Regions from separate parts of the Homo sapiens genome. Here region 2 is linked to region 1. The links come from fine-mapping of genetic effects on gene expression. A gene starts in region 1. The other region holds a variant in brackets. All regions are shown on one strand. Distances are between the middles of the regions.

Region 1 (5,382 bases):
TGCCGTGAGAAAATCCTAAGGGAAAAAAATCTCATTATCCTATTCAAAATACATTTAGGGTTATCTGGTCATCCCTAGCAGATTTTTATGTACCCAATGTTTATGTATCTCAAATTACACTCTGTTACCTTTCCCAGAGCAAGATGAAGAACCTCTAAGAACCTCTCAAACAGCATCATTTTCACAACAAGCACTAGCAATGGAAAACATTGTCACCACCACCAGCTAATCTTGTAGGGTCCATGGTATTTTCTGTAATGCCTTGAAACAGTCTGCCTCTCTCTTCTTGTCTGTCATTTTTATAGATGTCAGTGTGGGGCATCAGCAGTTGAAAACTCAGAATACCAAGCCAGTCCTTCCCTGTGACTGCTACATAGCTTTTGCCTGCAGGATAAGCCTCCATCACTGACGTAGTTGCTTTTTAACTTCTTTTTTTTTTTTAACTTGGAAAATCCCCCACCTCCTCCATTCCTTCACAAAACTTTCTGCCTGAATGATTTCTAGTCTGAGGGCCATACACACATTTTTTTTTCTCCCTCTGCAGGTTTTTTTTTCTCTTCAAACTTCCGCATGCTGCCTTTTTTTAAAGTGTCACACTTTGGAAAAAATTCTGACTACAAAGGATTTTGCAGTACATTGCATTCAAACCCCTTTCCCCCTATTCCAACTTGCTTTATAATGAAAGTAAGAGCCATACTCAAGAGACTTTTATTGGCAATTAAGTATCTAAGGACTTTGCAGATTTTCTTCTTTATTGTATGGCAATCTTAAATGTTTAATGAATATTTAAGTAAACAAATTTCAGCAACATGCCTTTTTTAGGAATTTGGCTTTAATTAACATCCAAACACTGTTAATTATTATGGCAAAAACATCAATACGTCAAAAAAAAGCCTTCAGGCCAGGGAATCTTTAAGAAACAATTATGTCTACTAATTTCGATTAAAGGTATCCTTTATTAAATTCTTAACAACCCGTCTCTTTCTAAACGCAGCGCCTTCACAACTCTTCTTCCCTTCCCCCTACCCCGCTTCCCTCCCTCCGCAATGGAGCGCAATCAAAGGCCGTATTATTGCCTAAGCTTGGCTCTCAGGCCAGCTAGGGATGTGTGTGTGTGTGTGTGTGTGTGTGTGTGTGTGTGTGTGGTGGGGCGGGGGTGGGGGGCGAGGGTGCAAGGGGAGAGGTTGTACGCCGCTTTTCCGAACCCAGCTCTAAATGGTTTCTCCTAAGCGAGACAAGGATTTTCCATAGCCTAAAAGAGGCCATCAAGTTTTAACATTGCGAGGCACGACTTCTAATCGCATCCTTCCCGGAAAAGTACAAACAGTTCCTCAGACGAGGTCCCCCACCTCCCACGCGCTCCCCAGCCCTCCCTCCCTGCGGAGAGCCCCGCGACAGCCTCCCCAACACCTGTGAATCATCCGGGAGGCTGCCACCGCCGAGCGATCCGCGCACCACCCCCTTCCCGGGCCCGGGCACGGCCAGGGAGGACAGTTAGGGTTGTTGCTTTATAATTATCACTTTTAATCTCTAATACGACCAGCACAAGTAGCCTTTGTCTCCCCGCCCTGATTTGAGCATCCGAGGGCCCCCCGAGGCAGCCTGCACGGGTACCCCGGGGTTTGCGCACTGAGTGAACCCCCAGATTCGGCCGTGTCCCAGCCGTCCTTGCTCTGAATCCCCCACCTCCTCCCGGCCGTTTGGACGGTTCCCTCGGGGCGTCTGTGCCTCCGTGGGGTACCCCTAAGACACCCAGCATGAAACCCCAGCACCGACTGCAAATTCCACCGAAAGCAGAGTCATCCGTTTTTGCCCTCGGCAAACAACTCAACTTCAAGCCTCGAGTCCTTGCAAACCCACGCTGGCTGGGCTAACTCCGCTTCCCTTCTCCTTCCCCCGACTCCTGCAACAGCTCAGAGAGCCTGGCTCTGACGTAGTTCAAAATAACGTGCGCCAGCCTCGCTGCCCGGCTGACCACAGCAACGAGAGCCACAAGCCCTCGACGCTGCTTCGATAACATGAAGCAATCACTCATAAAAATAGCAACCCACGTAGCCTGGCCATATATGGAGCTGGCGAGGGTGGACGGGGATGCCCCTACGGACCCTCTTCGGAGAAAACAAATCGCCGCTGAAATTTCCCCCACCCCTCCCATCACTACCTTTTACCCCTCCTCTGCCTTCCCCTCTCCTTAGATGACTCAACCACAGATTCCACTGAAAGGGGGTGGGGGTGGGGGTGGGGGGGAATATATACACATACACACAAATTATACATATATTATACATGTATTATAAAATATACACACACATACATATATACATACACACACATATACACATATGTACACACACACGCACACACACCAAAGAACATCAGGAATGCAGTTGCGGGATGAACGCGTTTGCCCAAGACCGAGTGTTAAAATGGAGTCATAAGAGTCGCCCCGTGCGGGTGTTTATAGAAGGTGAAAACACGCAGGTTTGCAGGCCAGCGCACTGGGAACCGAGTCAAGCGCGCCGCAGCCCGGGCCCCGCCCCCGCCCCCGCCGTGCCCCGCCCCCACTTCCTCCCGCCCCTCGCTGGGCGGCTATTAAAAGCTGCTGACGTCAAAACGGACGGCCATCTTTGATGAGGGCAGAGCTCACGTTGCATTGAAGACGAAACCTCGGGGAGGTCAGGCGCTGTCTTTCCTTCCCTCCCTGCTCGGCGGCTCCACCACAGTTGCAACCTGCAGAGGCCCGGAGAACACAACCCTCCCGAGAAGCCCAGGTAAGAACCCCCCTCCCCAGGTCGTGGCTCTGGCTCGGGATGGCTGCATACCCAGAAGGGACAGCAGCTGGGCAGTCCGAGTGGGCTTGGGTAAATACAAGTATTGGTGCACTTAGGGTGCGGTATTCCGTGTGTGCACGTCTGGTGGGGGCTTTATAAAGTGTTTTCGAGGTGAGCTGCTGGGGAAAAGGGAAACGGGAGCCCTGCAAATGGAGCGACGGGGAGGAAGAGCGAGGGTACGTACCGAATAATAACTTACTCTTTTGAAACAGTAGTGGGACCCCCTCTTTCTTCCATTTTGCGATGCAGTTTTCAGAGATATTTAGGCTGTTGAGTTTTCCTCCCCTGTCGTTCTAACCCTATTATTATGACTGTTGTCGTTAGGGTGCTATTATCCAGGGAAGAATTAAGGGGGAGACAGGGTGTGGGTGCTGGGGAGGCGAAAGGAGAAAGGGGGAGTTCCCGCCCCGGGCAAGCTGAGCTGCTGCAGCGACAGCAGCCTCCATGCCCCGCGGACTTGATTTATGCCGCCTGCTCCACGTCAACTGCAGGCTGGCGGGAGGCGGGCGGGTCGTGCCGGGTGGGAGGGCTCTGCGGAGGGCTGGCGCGGGTGGGCTGGCTTCGGGGACTGCGGCGGCCCGCGCTCAGCACCCTGGATAGCAACACCGAGGGCTCGCGCGGGCGCCCTCGACCTTTCAGCACCGGGGACAGCGGTCCGGCCGCAGCGCCTCATCTGCCTGCGGCAGAAATGCCTGGCCGGGGCTGGATGTGCCAGGGCTGGAGACCAAATTGTCTCCCTGAGACCCCGGTCTTACGGAGACCCTTAATAGAGGAGTCATAGTAGCTTAAAAGAAAACAAGAAAGAAATAAATCTTCCTCACAGAGACTCCTTTGCAGACAATTTCCTGTTCCCCTCCTCACCTCCTGCATAGCTTCAACAAAATAGTCTACTTGTGGAAATCTTCTGTGTTGCCCTCTGACCCTTATTTTACGTAGAAAATAAATACATTTTTTAAAAAATATGGATTTATCCTCCAGCAGGGTATCAAGGTTTTTGTTTGGTTTTGTTTTTTAACACAGAGTAGATCTGTCTACAGATCTTGGGTGAGCATAAGTACTGTATATATGAAGAAGCCAATGCTATCTGTTTATAGGGATGATACATCTCTCTCTATGTTTCCATTTGATAAAAATGTGAGATTAGCTGAACTAAGCAGAATCAACTTTAAGAATGAATCACTCTTCCTTTTCCTTCTTCCCCCATCCTTGCAATCAGGCATGAATACAAGCATTCATCCACAAAAACACATATCTGAGAAATTTTACTGGTCCTGTACTGAATAGATTTAACCTCTTTGGCCACGGTTTCAGAGTTACTGGAAGTATTTGCTATCAGCACTGGTTATCGCAGGCTGATAGCTTTAGATTTTGACAATATTAAGACTGGCCTTCCTCAGGAGAATCCAAGTGTGTCCTTCAGGGTAATGCAGGTAAAGAACCATGGTGTTAAACTAGAACTTAACTCTGACCTAAAGGTCTACTGCAATTTCTCTTATGGCACTGCGGGATTTTGCTGAGGTGGTAATAACTACTTTAACCATTTTCTACTCTGAGGCTTGGAGCATCTGAGAGAGCAAAAGTCATCAGGGGTATTTCTCTCTGTTTGATGTAGATAAAACTGGCATAAAAATGACCAGAGTCAAAATTATGCCATTTGAGTCATTAGCAAAAAAGAGTAACAGCGTCATATGTAATAATCTATACAATGCATTAAAGAAACGCTATCATGATCCCCTTAAAAGACCCCAAATGAGAACTTGGATTGTGTTTAGATAGTCATACCTCCTATCATCTGTATGCTACAGACACTAAAATTCCCTGTCCATATACAGAAGGTAATTTCATTCGCTGCTATTTAATTATTTCCTAGTGTTTTTTCTTTTTATAGATGACCATGTGTTTCCATGTATGTATATGTTGATCTGTTATTTTGCATGGATGTAAAATTATTTGGGTGGACATTTATATATGAGTATGTAAACGTATAAAAGAAGTTTATAACTTTGCAATCTGCAGACAAAAATAAACAACTGTGTTTTAGTAGTGGAGGAGAGAAAATATGGGCAGGAATCTTTAAAAATGCTTTAACTTCATGCTGCATGTCCAGACAGCTGTCTGCGTAGTTGCGTCAAATGAAAAGCCTAATGCTGCCGGAATTACGTGCTTGGACATTAGTAATTACTGCTGGGTTTGTTTGCTAGTGGAAGACTGGGGAGGAGCGGGGGAAGTAGAGGACCGCAGTGAAGATGGCAAAGGGCACAGAGCTGAGAGGAAGAAGCAATGTGCACAATTAGAAAGCTAATTTTAGAATAGCTTACTGAGAAATTTAAAAAATATATCATTGAACCATGAATTTAACATTTATATCATTGACAAGCTTCCAGGGAAAAAAAATCGAGAAATTTCCCATTTTAAGTTAGAATTTTTAAAATCCAGGGCAATGCGGTGAGAAGAGGCAGGAGCAGATGGACATAGGATGAGCCAGGAGTCATTCACACAGACCCTCTGATGCCTGTTTGTTCATCGGCATTTACTGCATTACCACCTCAGT
Region 2 (5,382 bases), 31 kb before region 1:
GTCAGTTGGCCCAGTGTAATGTAGCATTTGCCTGCCTCAGTTGCGTCCCAGGGCAGACGGAGAGTTTAATCCTTGCCCCTCTCATATGAAATAGGCCACCACTAGGATCCTCAATATATTTCTTTTTTTAATCTCTCTCTCTCTTCTGCAGGCTTATGGGTGGAATGCAAGCTATTGGAAGTATTTGAAGATGTGACCAAGGAAGCTATGAGAATTGGAAATGAGGCAGTTGTTTAGAAACGGGCTGATGTGCTTGTGGTAAGGTGGAAGGAGGAAGGCAGATGAGGAAAGGAATGTGCAACTGAAGCAATTAGCTGTTACTATGTAACGAACCATCCCAAAACGTAGTGACATAAAACAACAACCATTTGTTATTTCTCATGCGCTTACATTTCTACTAGGAAGTTCTGCAAATCTGGATTGGTCTTGGCTGATCTTGGCAGGGCTTGTTCTGGCATCCACTCTCAGCTGCTGAATTAGCTCTCAGTTCCTGGTTCAGGGTGGCCTTGGCTTGGATGACTTGGCTCTGCTCCATGTATCTTTCACATCCTTCCAGCAGGCCAGCTCAAGCCTGTTCTCTAGATTGTGGCAAGGATCCAAGGGAAAGAGAGAAAGCCAAAATGTTCATGCCCTTTTTTGAGCCACTTTTTTCAATGAGTTGGCTACTGTCTCCCTAGCTAAACACATCTCAGCCAAGCCCAGAACCAGTATGGAAGGTCACTAACCAAAGCTGTGGGTAAATGGAGGCATGGAAATCTGTGACCTTTAATGCAATCATCTACAATAACAAGCCAATGACCATGAAGCTGGACAGAGAAATAGATTCCTGGGAGGAAGAATAGCAAAATGTCTGGAGTAAGAGGAAGTAGGGTATTTCAGGGAACTCAGCAAACAGTGTGATGACAAAATGAAAGCACAGTCATGCAATCAGCACCTGGGTAAATATTTAGGTTGGAGTCTGTGTTGACCCAGTCTGCAGGTAACCCTCAGCCTGGCCCAGCATTTCACTGCCCTCCTACTACTTACCCAGAAACAACTCTCCTGTATTGATTAAGCAGGAAAGAGGAAACTCTCCTGGAAGACACAAGGGCAGATCCAAGCAGGAGCTAAGGTTTTCCAGAATGTGGTCTTAGGTCTGTGAATGGCTTTTGGACAGAGGCACAGCTGAACATTCCCATGGTTTCTGTGACTTTAGAATCACTACCACCTCTTGACTATGCACCTCTTGACTAATTTCTATTTCTCAAATTATAGAATAAAAAATGCTGATTCTAAGGATAAAAACACAACAAATAATCCAAAAGTATATAAGATGAAAAATAATAGTGTGAGTTCTATTCCATTCTCCAGAGAGTAACAACTGCTCTCAATTTGGGCACTTCCTTTCTGTCTTCTTCCTGCACATGTACTTTTTGCATATGTCCTTTGCACGTTCTTAACCATACTTGGGTAATGATGCCAACATCACAAGCATAACTTTCTGACAGCCCAGAAAGCCAACCTTGTCTTCTTCCTTGTTCAACCCTTGTGCCATTTTGCCCTAACCAGAAAAATACTCCACTTGGTAATGATTCTCTCTCTGTGTCTGTGAAAAATAACATTGGAAAGTCTAATGTGGAAATGTTGAACCAGGCTGGGCATGATGGTTCATTCCTGTAATCCCAGGACTTTGAAAGACCAAGGTGGAAGGATGGCTTGAGCCCAGGAGTTCAATACCAGCCTGGGTAACATAGTAAGACTCCCATCTCTACAAAAAATTAAAATTAACCAGGCATGGTGGCATATGCCTGTAGTCCTAGCTACTCAGGAGGCTGAGGTGGGAGGATGGCTTGAACCAGGAGGTCGAGGCAGCAATGAGCCATGATTGTGCCACTGCATTCCAGCCTGGGTGACAGAGTGACAGCCTGTCTCAAAAAAGAAAAGAAAAGATACAAAAGAAATATTGAATCAAAAAATATAGGTAAAAGTGAAACAAAAGGAAATTTAAAAATAAATATGTATCAATAGATAAAAAATGGTAAAATGAACAAGATGTGGAAAATGTTGTAGTCTCTACATCTGGCCTAATATTTAATCTAAGAATCTAATGCAAATTTCTTACATCATGAATAAATATGGATGATGGGCCTACAGATCAGATACATTTTAATAATGAGCAGACTAAGTGAGGCCTCATACCTCTCATCTCCATGTGTAACCTAATTAATCGGGCCATTTCAGTTGCAGAACACTCACTTCCATAACTGTCTTCTACTTCAGAAGTGTGTGTTTCAGTTAGAATTTGATTTGGGTGCAGATGCCTATGATAGACAATGCAAACAGTGACTTAAAGAAATAAAAGTTTATATTCCTCTCACATAAAAAAAATTTAAATTTAAATAGTGCAGGGCAGATTTAGCACTCCACGGTGCCAAGAATATGAGCTTCTTTTATTTTGTTGCTCTTGGCCTTCACTTTATGGCTCAAAATGGCTGCTGAAACTCCAGACATCAAACCTGCATTCCAGCCTGCACAGTAGAGGAAGGAAGTAAAGAAGGGTAAAGGCTCATTTTCTAAGGAAATTGCTCATCAGCCTCACACAACACTTCCTCATACACTGCATTAGCCCAATTTAGTCATATGACCACACCTATCTGCAAGGAAAGCTGAGAAATGTTGTTCTTGTTCTCAGGGGAGATGTATGTGCCCAGCTAAAAATAAGGTGTTCTGCCACCAAAGAAGAAGAGAAAGGGGATATTGAAGTTCAAGTGGTAATCTTAGACATATAAAGCCATCAAAATTATTTCCCCCCCAAACCCTTTTGAGAAACTGAGTGCGTAAAGATAGATTATGACTGGGCACGTCAAACTTGTTTTAAATATACAATTGGCCAGGCACAGTGGCTCACACCTGTAATCCCAGCACTTTGGGAGGCC[A/G]AGGCGGGTGGATCACCTGAGGTCAGGAGTTTGAGACCAGTCCGGCCAACATGGCGAAACCCTCTCTCTACTAAAAATACAAAAATTAGCCGGGCATGGTGGCATGCCTGTAATTCCCAGCTACTCAGGTGGGAGGCTGAGGCAGGAGAATCTTTTGAAACTGGGAGGCAAAGGTTACAGTGAGTTGAGATCACACCACTGCACTCCAGCCTGGGTAACAGGGTGAGACTCTGTCTCAAAAAAAATAAAATTAAAAAATGAAATAAAAATACAAATAAATATACTATTTTTTTCAAAGGATAGAAGGAGCATTGTCTACGTTAAATAATGCAGAAGATTTTAACTGATTGCAGCCCAATTTGTTTCCATATCCCCAGAGGCCATCCCAACCCAGAGGCTTTCCCATAGAACCGTGGGGAAAGATCTCAATTGTCTACACTCTGGCTCTGAGATAAGGCAGCGCTCTCTCAGCCCTTTAAAGGGGGAGAAGGATGTTAGTTCTATTCCTTAGGCAAGAGGGCCTCACCTGTGGCCATTCAACCCCAGGTTCTGCAAGAGTGAGAAGCAGAAAGCCTACTTTGCGTTGCCTCTACCTGAGGAGAAGAAGCCAGGTGTGCTCTCAGATGGTCGGGGTAGTGCTTGGGAAGATGTCGGGAGGACCGCGTAGAAAGCTGAGAGTGAGCTTCCCTTTGCTCACTGGCTTCTCAGCCAAAAACCGCTGGAGTGGAAGAGGGACATTATGGGCCTGCAGCAAACTCTCTCTCAACCTTCAGTTTCCCAATGTATAAAATGAGTATGATGAAACTTGCCTCATAGATTCATTACAAGGGTTGTTTAAAAAACATTTACCAAAGTGCCCGCTGTATACCTCCATTTAATGCATGCAAGTTCCTTTCTCTTCTTCCTTTTGGAATAACATAACCTGATTGTAAGAACATGTTTCCACAAGACAACATGATGAGAAATGTTTGGCAAGATCTAGAATTGCAGTATGGTAGCCACTGACCACATGTGGCCATTAAGCACTCCAAATGTGTCTATTGTAACTAGGAACTGAACTTTTAATTTTATTTCATCTTAATTCATTTAAACTTAAATTTAAAACCTGCTGCTTGATTAGAGTATTGAAAAATATTTAAACGTATTTGGAACAATTTGGGTATGTGAATTTCCTCTTTCAACTATAAATCTTACAAAATCTAAACACAGATCGAGTATTCCGAATTAAAATTTAACATTCAAATTAAAATGTGCTACATGTAACAAATACATACAAGATTTCAAAAAATATACTATAAAAAAGAGAATGTAAATAAAGTCATTGATAATTTTTATGTTAATAACTTTCATGTTGAAATATGTTGATATATTGGGTAAAGTAGAATACAATATAAAACTAATTTGTCCTGTTTCTTTTGACTTTTCTGATGTGATGATTAGAACATTTAAAGTTACATAAGTGGTTTGCATTATATTTCCAGTGGACAGTGCTAAGCAGAGGATAGCAAATAATCATTTGGATTGAGTCTTCTCACCAGACTGGCTAGTGATTTTGGCCTTGCACAGACATTTCATTAATTAACCGAGCACCTATCCTGAGCTAGGGATAAAGTAGCAGTTGAATCAGAAATAAGCACATAAGCAAACATTGTAAATAAGACAATTTCTGATAATTATCATAAGCAGAAGGAAGGAAATAAAGTAATAAAAGAGAGAATAATTACCCAGAAATGGAGCTGGTTTCTTTACATGGGAGGGCAGGCAGAGAAGGCCTCTCAGAGGAAGGACATTTGAGTTGAGATTTGAAGGGTAAAGATGAGCTAGAAGTGCAAAAGTTTAGATGAGGGGAACATTTTACAGAAATATTAAATGGTTGTGCTCAAGGTCAGATAGCAAGCTGCTAAGTCAGACTAGCATTATATACCCAGACTGATCTGTGCCTAAGTCTGTGATCATATCCATTTGTGAGAGATGCTAATTTCCACTCTGACAAAATTGTTGACACTAATGAACTGCCCTCCCCCTTCCCCATTATACTTCAGCAGGGTATTGGTGGGGCATTTCCCAGTTATATTCCTAAGAGCAGAAATCGAAAACAACAGTTCTATACAGGTAGGCATATGTCATATCTTGGAGAAAAGCATCCTTTCTACTCTTTTCAGCCTCTTGACTTCCTATGACAAGAACCAATTACAAATACTGCAGAGCAAGAATCAATGAAATAAAGAAATAATGGGAATGATTTCTGAGGACAGGAATTAAATAAGTGTGTCTTTCCAAAGCTATGACTTAATGGGGTCAGGATAACAAGCTCCAGGAATAGAAATGTCCTAATGGGAAAATAACGGCAATTCTGAAAGAGGAATAGTGGGGATTTTGGTGTAAGGGACTAACCATCATTACAGTCCCATGGGAAGTTATTAGATCTGGAAAGGTAGGCATCCCTTCATGCTTCTATAGACCGAAA

Evidence for each region. PIP is the estimated chance that this variant, and not a neighbour inherited with it, causes the effect.
Region 2: its variant is the best candidate, but not a certain one, in a credible set for the expression of SNAP25 in lung (TOPMed, PIP 0.64).

Annotation. Positions count from the first base shown.
Region 1 is chr20:10,216,207-10,221,588 of GRCh38, forward strand. It overlaps SNAP25 (synaptosome associated protein 25), which reads left to right and starts at 2,624. Exons shown (of 8, transcript NM_130811.4): 1 at 2,624-2,771. SNAP25-AS1 (SNAP25 antisense RNA 1) reads right to left here and starts at 3,300. Exons shown (of 5, transcript NR_040710.1): 1 at 3,031-3,300.
Region 2 is chr20:10,185,418-10,190,799 of GRCh38, forward strand. All of the region lies in intron 2 of SNAP25-AS1 (SNAP25 antisense RNA 1), which reads right to left. All of the region lies in intron 2 of LOC105372524 (a long non-coding RNA gene), which reads left to right. Among named protein-coding and RNA genes, the nearest start is that of SNAP25, 31 kb to the right of the region's middle. The variant A/G (reference allele first, on the strand shown) is at 2,916.